Homo sapiens: one gene and its partners. The protein of the gene in region 1 purifies or fractionates together with the protein of each later gene. This does not show direct contact. Each region holds a gene or a part of one and is shown on either strand. Other genes may lie near its edges. The genes, in order: HSD17B3, ABCB9 and PYGB.

Region 1 (3,652 bases):
CAAGGGTAAATTGTAAGTTTTACGATATACCGAATTGTAGTGAATTTTGAAATTGTGACGTTCTCACGAATGAAGCGTATACTAGAGCTCAATCATTAAATATGTCTGTAATGTTGATATGAAAGGACTAGCAGACCTATTTGACTGTTGTATATTAACAGATAGTTCTATTGAGTACAAATTCTTCAGGTTTCTTCATTTCACTGCATTTTCTTTTTGCATTTTGGTATTTTCCTCTTTGCTAAATTCCCTACCTTCCATAGGCCTTTAATTGCTGCTGTGGGGTGGGGGTGAGAAGTGGGCAGAGCTCCACTTTTAGAAGGAACCTTGAAATGTCCTTACAATGACAGATGGGTGCCTGGGCAGAGAGATAATGGGGAACACTGCCTGCCCTTGTGGGGTGAAGGCTCACAATATCTGCATCCTCATGGGGCCTGCAGGAAATGTTCCCTGGCTGCGGATCTGTTTCATTTTGGAACATGTTTTCCACAGTCTCGCCAATCCCTCCAAAACACCAACTAACCAACCAACCAACCAACCAACAAACCAACCAACCAACCAACCCACCCACCAACCAAACAATCCTTTCACCTGAATGTTTAGTGAGGGGCTTCAAGGGCGTGGGCTGGAGAGCAAAGGGATGAACCTTTGGAGTACTGACTGCCCTGGAGACTAGGCTTGTGAGAAAACGTGGCCAGTGAGAAAGAGAAGTTTAAAGATGAATTCTGTCTTTTAAAAGCATTCTTGCTTTTCACAGTGATCACTGGAGCAGGCGATGGAATTGGGAAAGCGTACTCGTTCGAGGTAAGCTATCTTCCTGGGGACTTTCTCCTCCCTTGTATTGAACAATCACAGTCCTGAGACATCCACCCCAACACTAGATTTTTGAATATAAAAGCAGTATGCATTCATTTAAAGGAGAAAATATACTCTATGGAAAAGCAAACAAAAATAATAATCTCACTCCCTGGATCTCTTTTTTTAAACACAATGATATTCAAAGGTGACAGTACCTTGCCTTAGGGATTGTTTTGGGAATTTGTGGGGCATTGGTATTTTCTAGTGTAATTGTGCCATATCAGCTTATATACTTTAATTTTTTCAAAACATTATAAACTACTTTCCTTTTATTTATTATTTACATTAAGCTAGGGCATATATTGATTTTTTAAAAGTCACTTGCTTAGGCAAAACATATTATCAGTGACTTTCATTTCAAGGACATTAATGGCATTATAGCATATTCTATAAAAAGAAGGTCTAATAGAACTGAGAGTCACTAGAATACAATTAGTATTTTTGAGTATTTGCTTCCACGCTTATTTCTCTGTAGATAGATAGATTGATAATTATACTTTAAAAAATGCATTTATAACATATGTGGTTTTATATGCTATTATAATTATAAATTTCACATTTTTATTAATGAAACATTGTTTCCTGGAATTCCTATGTATTTTATTTCTTCCTTATGCCTATTACACTGATGTCTAGAACCATGTCAAATACAATAGAAGAATAGAAAGAATTCTAGAAACTGTAAGAGGAAAGCTGTTTAAAAATCAATAACACCAGCTGGGCACGGTGGCTCACTCCTGTAATCCCAGCACTTTGGGAGGCCGAGGCAGGTGGATCACCTGAGGTCAGGAGTTCGAGACCAGCCTGGCCAACATGGTGAAACCTCATCTCTACTTAAAATACAAAAATTAGCAGGGTGTGTTGGCAGGTGCCTGTAATCCCAGCTACTTGGGAGGCTGAGGCAGGAGAATCTCTTGAACCTGGGAGGCAGAGGTTGCAGTGAGCTGAGATCGCACCATTGCACGCCAGCCTGGGCAATAGAGCAAGACTTTGTCTCCAAAAAAAAAAAAAAAAAAAAAAGAAATCAATAACACCTTAAAAATATAATGAAAAGCTTTTCCATTTGCAATAGAAAAATAAGTAATCCTAGAAATACAGTTAACATAAAATTTGTAGGTCTTTTTCAAGAAAACTGTAAAATTCCATTGAGAAATATGAGATATTCCAAATAAGAGAAAAAAATACCACATTCTTGAAGAGAAAGATATTTGAAACCTAACAGTTTCTCCTAAATTTATCTCAAATCCCAGATTATACATACCATTATTTTTTAAATGTTACATTAGTTGTGAGCATTTTCTTATGTCAAAACTGTGGGTTTTTTTTTTTTTGAGACACTTGCTCTGTTGCCCAGGCTGGAATGCAGTGGTACAAACACTGCTTACTGCAGCCTTGACCTCCTGGGCTCAAGCAATCCTCCCACCTCAGCCTCCCGAAGCAATGTGTCCTCCTGGAACTACAGGCTCATGTATTTTTTGTAGAGACAGGGTTTCACTGTTCCTCTGTTGTCCAGGCTGGTCTTGAACTCCTGAGCTCAAGTTATCTGCCTGCTTTGGCCTCCCATAGTGCTGGGATTACAGGCATGAACCACTGCAGCCTGCCGAAAACCCTGATTTTTAAATGGCAACATAATATTCCATCAAATGGATGGTCCATAATTTAACCATTTTCTTGGTAAAAATTTTAATTTTTTTCTGAATTTTTCTTCATTTTATATAAAATTGGGAGTAAATACAGAAACTTTTCTGCTTATATCCAATTATTTTGGGAGCTATTTTCTTGAGGTGGTCTTGCTGGGTTAGAGGTTGTGAATATATGTAAGGTTCCAGTGCTTTCCACTATGTTATAGTAATTACACCCATTTCTGAGACAGATGTGGTCTTCATCAGCTTCAGCTGCAGAATGAATTCCATAAGCTGAGTGGCCTAAGCAAGCATGTATTTCTTAGGGTTCTGGAGGCTGGGAAGTCCAAGAGCGAGGTGCCAGCAGATCTGATGTCTGGCAAGGGCTCTCTTCTTGGTTTGCAGACAATTGTCTTCTTGATGTAGCTTCACACGGCAGAGAGCAGAGAGAGGGGAAGCAAACTCTCTGATGTTTCTTCTTCTTTTACTTTTTGGAGACAGGTTCTTGCTCTGTTGCTCAGGCTGGAGTGCAGTGGTGCAAACAGCTCACTGCAGCCTCAACCTCCTGGGCTCAAGTGATACTCCCACTCAGCCTCCTGAGTATCAGGGACTACGGGCGTGTGCCATCACGCCTGGCTAATTTTTAAATTTTTTGTACTGACAGGGTTTCACCATGTTGCCCAGGCTGGTCTTGAACTCCTGGGCTCAAGTGATCTGCCTGCCTCGGCCTCCCAAAGTACTGGGATTACAGACATGAGCCACCATGCCTGGCCTGGTGTTTCTTCCCATAAGGACATTAATCTCATCGTGAAGGCCCCACTCTCATGACCTGATTACCTCCTGAAAGCCTTACCTCCAAGTGTCATCTCATTGGGGGTTAGGATTTCAGCATATGAATTTTGGGGGGGCCACAAAACATTCGGTTCATATGAAAAATGCATTCAACTACAGTACAGTACCCATGCCTTTTCTTGTCCCAGACGGCTTGCATCATAACAAAGCCATCTTATGTGAAACAGCAGTGCAAGGCATCTGGGACGCACTTGCTAGAAACTTGGCGTATGTTAACAAACCTCAAGCATGTCAGTTAAAAAAGCTCCTCGTGGGCTGGGCGCAGTGGCTCACGCCTGTAATCCCAGCACTTTGGGAGGCCGAGGAGGGTGGATCACCTG
Region 2 (3,652 bases), on another chromosome or scaffold:
CTGCAGCAGGTGTACAAGCTGAACAGGAAGGAGGCAGCTGCCTACATGTACTACGTCTGGGGCAGCGGGGTACGTGCCCCTGGCCAGGCAGCTCTGGCTGTGGAGGGATGGGATGCAAAGATGGGGGAAGCCCTCGATCTAGGACATCAGTCCTGCATGTTGGTGTCAAGCTGGTGGAGAATCTGTCTGTCTTTCTTTTTTTTTTTTTTTTTTTTTGAGACAGAGCCTCACTCTGTCACCCAGGCTGGAGTGCAGTGGCACCATCTCAGCTCACTGCAACCTCCGCCTCCTGGGTTCAAGCGATTCTCCTGCCTCAGCCTCCTGCATAGCTGGGACCACAGGCGCCCGCCACCATGCCTGGCTAATTTTTGTATTTTTGGTAGAGACGGGGTTTCACTATCTTGGCCAGGCTGGTCTCGAACTCCTGAGCTCAGGTGATCCACCCGCATCAGCCTCCCAAAGTGCTGGGATTACAGGCGTGAGCCACCGCGCCCTGCTGAGAATCTTTCCCAGAAGCAAGGCTGCCCCTCTCCCAGTCACCTGACGTGGGGTGGCAGGGTGGGAGCTTTCTTTTCCCAGCTGGGGAAACATCCTTGCTGAGGTGGGGAGTCAGCAGGTCCCTAGGCCACTTTCGGGCAGGTCTCATGTCACAGCCACACACACTCCCGACAGTGTCTGGCACACTCCCGGGAGTGCGTCACAGCCTCTCCTTGGAGGATGGGGAGCACTTGGATCATGTCACTGCTACACTGGACACACATGGGAGGTGGGCAGGTCAGGGCATAGCTGCGGAGGAATGAGGAGGGTTTGGAGTGAGAGGGAGGAGGGAGCTGGTGGTCTACAGGGGAGCCAGGGGAAAGAGGATATCTGGGACTTCCTGGTGCTGCCACCTCCCAAAAGTATCAGCCAAGGAGGAGAGGAGGGGCTAAGGTCCAGCTCAGCTAGCTGAGCCTCTTAGCAATCCGTCTGCTGGCAGGGGGTGCCTTTGCAGCTTCCACCAAGGCACGGTGGTCCAGACAGCAGCCTAGTTCTGGCTGGGCATGAGGAGGACAGATGGAGTCCCTGACTAGGGTGTGGGCTGCCATGGGTACTCAGACTCCACTCCCTTCCCAGATGCCCCCCAGGCACAGGAGGAAGGCATGGGCGCTCCCATCACAGCCCCTTCTTCACGGAACCCCACTGGGGGAGGAGACAGAGAGCTCACTGTGTGACCTTAGCCAGGGCACTTGCCCTCTCTGAGTCATGCTCTTCCCCATGAGGAGGACGAATAGTTCCCAGGTGGCCAAGCTGAGGAGCCTGGGGGTGGCATGTGTGTGCCAGGACCTCACAAAGAAAGCCTTGTTCTGTGGCCAAGCCCACAGCCTGCTCCAGCTGGAGGCCTCTGTAGGGAAATGCTCGGGGCAGGGGAAGGCATGAGTGACAAGCCTTGGAAGACACCCCTGCCAACGGCCGGCATTTCAGTTTGTGGCTGGGTCTGCCCTCACCTCCCCCTGCAGCCTGGGATGGGTCAGGGAATGGGGATGGTGGGGGATCTAAGGTCCCCTCGACCCACATCCCCTCTCCCTCTGCCCCAGCTCACACTGCTGGTGGTCCAGGTCAGCATCCTCTACTACGGGGGCCACCTTGTCATCTCAGGCCAGATGACCAGCGGCAACCTCATCGCCTTCATCATCTACGAGTTTGTCCTGGGAGATTGTATGGAGGTGAGAGGCCAGTGTGTCCGGGGATCCAGAGAGAAGGGAGGAGTTTGGGGAAGAGGGATCTTAACAGGGTGGGGGCGGGGCTCCAGGGACTCTGACAATGTGGTATTTCTCTCTAAGGTAAGTAGGGGAGACAGCATGATCATATCAAGAATGATAATACTAGGCAGGGCGTGGTGGCTCACGCCTATAATCCCAGAACTTTGGGAGGCGGAGGCGGGTGGATCACTTGAGGTCAGGAGTTCGAGACCAGCCTGGCCAACATGGTGAAACCCCATCTCTACTGAAAACACAAAAATTAGCCAAGCGTGTTGGTGGGTACCTGTAATCCCAGCTACTTGAGAGGAGAATTGCTTGAACCCTGGAGGCAGAGGTTGCAGTGAGCTGAGATCGCACCACTGTACTCCAGCCTGGGTGACAGAGCGAGACTCCGTCTTGATAAATAAATAGGCAAGCCGAGTATGGTGGCATGTGCCTGTAATCCCAGGTCCTCAGGAGGCTGAGGCTAGAGAATCGCTTGAGCCTGGGAGGTCAAGGCCGCAGTGAGCCGTGATCACGCCACTGCACTCCAGGCTGGACGACAGAGAGAGACCGTGTCTCAAAAAGAAAGAAAGGGCCAGGTGCGGTGGCTCACACCTCAGGAGGCCGAGGCAGGAGAATCGCTTGAACCCGGGAGGCAGAGGTTACAGTGAGCCAAGATCGCGCCACTGCACTCCAGCCTGGGCAACCAAAGCGAAACTCCATCTCAAAAAAAAAAGAAAGAAAGAATGATAATACTACCAACAAGTGACAGCAACACCCTTTAGGGACAGAGGTGATTTCAGAAAATGGTCTTAACAGCTCTGTGAGAAATTGAAGTGATGAAAAGAAAACTGAACCTGAGCGGTGGAGTGACTCGTCCATCACATTTGCTCGGGAACGGGGCTCAGGGCCAGCCGGGCCTGACTTCCTCCCAGCCTACTTCCAGCGTAGTGCCTCGGAAATGCAAGGGTGTTTTAGATTGTCTTGATTTTGGTTTCCGCACAAGCAGATCCTGAGACAGAATTGGCGTGCAACGGATTTGTTTGGGAGGTGATCTCAGGAAACGGGGGTGGGAGTGGAAAGTGAGACGTGGAAGGAAGGAAGTCAGCAGAGTGAGTTGTGGAGCCAGTTACCAGTGTGGGCAACTGAGGTGGGATCCTTCTAGCGGACAGGGTAGGACACCAGCACCAGAGTCATCCCATCTGAGGGCCAGGGAGCTGGGGTGTTTACACCCAAGCTGCCATCAGCCATTGCTCAAGGTCAGCCTGGAGTGAGGGTGTTAATTCTCTTGTCTGCCTCGCTCCCACAAAAAAGCCCGCAGCCCGCAGGCAGTAAGAGATTGGGCCTTTGTGTGCTGCGCTGACAAAGGCTCAAGGATGTTGGTGGGGTGTTCCTAGCATCTGCTACTCAGGCCATTGCATCTGCTGGAGAATCACACCTGCCATATTATTTGACTCAGCAGTAAATCTGCCCCTAGGAATCCATGCTTCAAGAGTACTCACAGCAGTGGGCGAAGATGTATGTCCAGAGATGTTCAGTGCAGTGTTGTTTATTTATTATCATTACTATTTGAGACAGTCTCACATTGTCACCCAGGCTGGGGTGCAGTGGTGCTTTCATGACTCACTGCAGCCTTGACCTCCTGGACTCAAGTGATCTTCCCACCTTAGCCACTTGAGTAGCTGGGGTTACAGTCACATGCCACCACACCCAGCTAATGTTTTTCTTTTTAGGTTTTTTTTTTTTTTTTTTTTGAGATGGAGTCTTGCTCTGTCGCCCAGGCTGGAGTACAGTGGTGCAATCTTGGCTCACCGCAACCCCTGCCTCCCGGGTTCAAGCTATTCTCCTGCCTCATCCTCCCCAGTAGCTGGGACTACAGGCATGCACCACCATGCCCAGCTAATTTTTGTACTTTTAGTACAAAATTTAGT
Region 3 (2,866 bases), on another chromosome or scaffold:
GATGACAGATCAGAATCACAAACCCCTCTGGCCCAGGCCAAGAATCTACTCAGCTTGGGAAATAAACAATCTGACCCAACACGTCTACATGGACCCACCCAGCTGCTCCCCTAGCCTCTGGACCCAGGAGCCTCACCCGGTACAGCTGGTCCACCTGTGCCTGGCACTGCATGTAGGCTTCATAGTCTGCAAACACCTTGAACCTGGAATGGGAGAAAGGAGGCTGGGCCAGGGCAGCAGGGAGCCCTGCCCACACTGTCCCGAGGGGAGAGTCCCAGGGCAGGAGGCCAGGCACCATCCACCTGGTCCTGTCTGGAGCGAAGGGGCCCACCCACGCAGCTGGTCAGAGCCAGGCTGCACCAGGCCCATTTGGCCACAGGGCTTCTCTGTGAGCAACACTTATGTCCTGGGACAATATTTTAGAAAAACCTTATTTCAACCCAACACTCCTTTAAATAAACTGGCATTTAAAACGTGTCTTCCACACGCAGGGCAGTTAGAGCTGCACATGGGAGAGGCCTCCTGGGCAGACAGTGGAGAGCCCATGGCGCCGCCTCAGGGCAGGGGGCACTTGCTGGGGAACGGCATCTCCATTTGCCGTCTTAAGTCTAACTGGGATTTGCCTACACAGGAAATACTGACTTGCAGTTCCTGATGTGCTGAACAAAAATGCCAGATTTATGAATCTACAAATGCATTTCTGTTCACTATCGAGTCAGAAGCACACTTCACGAAATGCAGAGTTCACAATTTTAAAAGCACTTCCTTTATCACAGACCTCAGCAGGGCCCAGGTTCCAGCCCAGATCCCAGCATGTGGTCAGAGCTGGTGTGACTGAAGCCAACAGGTGACACGGTCATCGAAGAGCAGCAGACAAAACTAAAACTAACCCAAAGGCAGCTGAAAGTGGAGGGCAGGTGAATTCCCAGCCCTCGCCGGATTCAACTTTTGCCAACGGTGAAGAACTGCCCTGAGCTGCAAACCTTACAAAGTCTGTAACTCTAGATAAACCATACCATGTGCTAACTGCACTGAAATAAAACACTAACTACATTATAATGTCACATCGTTGCAAGTGAAATCCATTTTCACCACTGCCTGTCACTGGCACTGACGCCTGCCGCGGTTCCGCAGCCCTTGTGCGCCCCCTACCCCACCCCAGGGAGTTTTGGGCCCATGCTCCCTCTACTGGCCTGCTGGGACACGGCTGCCCCTGGGACCTCCAACCAGCAGAGGACACCCCCTCCTGCTCAGCACATTGGTCCACAAGGCCTGGGGGCTGGACTGTGCTGCTGTGTCTCGCTGCCCAGGGCCCCCTGGCATTGCCAGAGGCCATCGCAAACTCCCAGCTGGGGTCTAAGGCTCTGCCCAGTAAGGTCTCATGGGCACAGTGGAGAAGACGTCCTGAAAGCACGGGTTTTGCTCTCCAAACAAGGTGGAATATCCAACCCACGAAGAGGACCCCTCCCTCCCTCCCTCCCTCCCAGCCACCCAACCAGGGAAGTCGGTCCCACCTGTCATGGTGCATCAGCATGTTCACGATGTCCTTGAAGCAGTCTGGCTCCTTGGGAGAAAAAAAGCCACTGCTGATCTGGTCCACGGCCTGCTTCAGCTCGGGCAGGTGGTCGTAGTACTCCCTGGCATTGTACCTGTGAGGCGATGGGCCAGGAGTCAGCAGCCAGCGCCCCAGGTGGGCCACCTTGGAGAACAAGCCATGTTGGTGCCTGGCACAGCCCCTGCCCCAGGATGGCCCTGGGAGCTCAAGGCCTGCACGGTCCAGGGCAGCAGCCAGTGGCCATGGGTGGTTACGAGGCCCTTGAGCAGGGACCTGCTCGAGCAGAGATGTGAAGTCAGTCTAAAGCCAATCCCACCTGCTCCTTTGACTGTTAAAGAAATGTCATCACTAGCAGATCTGCTAGGACATAGTGGCTGATGCCACATTCCTAGTGGAGAGGGCCACTCAGAACTTGGCTCACTGTGAAATCCTGGGCAGAGCTTTTGAAAAACAGACGGCCGGAGGGGCAGGAAGTGAAATGGAGCACCTTGGCTGGGACCTCGAAGATGGAAAAGGAAAAACGCAAGCAAGACCAGACAGGACAAGGCAGAGCTAAGTGGGAGAGGGACGGACGGGCAGACATGGGCATCCCAGGACGGGGCCCGGGCAGAAGAAGCTGTGTGAGGGCGCAGAAAGGGAGCACAGGCCTCTGTGCTCGGGCCAGCAAGGCACAGCTCTGACTTCAGATGGCATGTGTGGTTTCACCTGACCCTACTTAAGGCCTCACAGGCTCCCCAGTGCTTCAAGGCAATCAGGCAACACTGCCTTTTCTTTGTAATTATCGCTTGGAATCAGGCCCGTGCTGGATTCCTCATGACGTCCAGATCATGAAGAACAAGGAAAAACTGAGAAGCTGTCACAGACCAAATGACACTGGGGAGACCTGACGGCCACACACAGTGGAGTGCCCTGATGGGATCCTGGGATGGGAAAGACAGTAACAGAACCCCGGTGGAGTTGGAATGGAGTGTGGGCTGCAGGAGGGCCAGTGCTCTGAGCTCAGTGCAGCCAACGGAGGGGCGCGGGGATAAGGTGGATGAAGCTCTGGGTGCTGTCTTCAGGATTCCCTCCTCCCCTCTGCCACCCCCCAACCCCCCCATCCCCCCCACTCCCCCACCCCCCCCGACCCTGGCCTACACATTTAAAATGTTTCCAAAATACTATTTTTAAACAATTTTAACAGTTACAACTTAGACCAGGGAACCTCAACAGCAGGCAAGCCCCAAATCAGCAGAGTGCTCCCGGCAGAGCGCCCCTGGCAGTGGGGTCCTGCCCAGCCCCAGCCCATTTCTGTGGGGCTGCCTGTGCCCA

The links.
Region 2: the proteins of HSD17B3 (region 1) and ABCB9 purify together in Homo sapiens (affinity purification with mass spectrometry; one large-scale study listed by BioGRID and IntAct). This does not show direct contact.
Region 3: the proteins of HSD17B3 (region 1) and PYGB purify together in Homo sapiens (affinity purification with mass spectrometry, with the first as the bait; one large-scale study listed by BioGRID). This does not show direct contact.

What each region holds. Positions count from the first base shown.
Region 1 is NC_000009.12:96,295,568-96,299,219, reverse strand, and holds part of HSD17B3 (17-beta-hydroxysteroid dehydrogenase type 3), read left to right. Parts: intron 1-757; coding exon 758-804; intron 805-3,652. UniProt on the Homo sapiens protein: Catalyzes the conversion of 17-oxosteroids to 17beta-hydroxysteroids. Favors the reduction of androstenedione to testosterone. Testosterone is the key androgen driving male development and function. Uses NADPH while the two other EDH17B enzymes use NADH.
Region 2 is NC_000012.12:122,942,442-122,946,093, reverse strand, and holds part of ABCB9 (ABC-type oligopeptide transporter ABCB9), read left to right. Parts: coding exon 1-69; intron 70-1,574; coding exon 1,575-1,703; intron 1,704-3,652. UniProt on the Homo sapiens protein: ATP-dependent low-affinity peptide transporter which translocates a broad spectrum of peptides from the cytosol to the lysosomal lumen for degradation.
Region 3 is NC_000020.11:25,292,941-25,295,806, reverse strand, and holds part of PYGB (glycogen phosphorylase, brain form), read right to left. Parts: intron 1,650-2,866; coding exon 1,515-1,649; intron 1,065-1,514; exon of another isoform or gene 835-1,064; coding exon of another isoform or gene 777-834; intron 204-776; coding exon 137-203; intron 1-136. UniProt on the Homo sapiens protein: Glycogen phosphorylase that regulates glycogen mobilization. Phosphorylase is an important allosteric enzyme in carbohydrate metabolism. Enzymes from different sources differ in their regulatory mechanisms and in their natural substrates.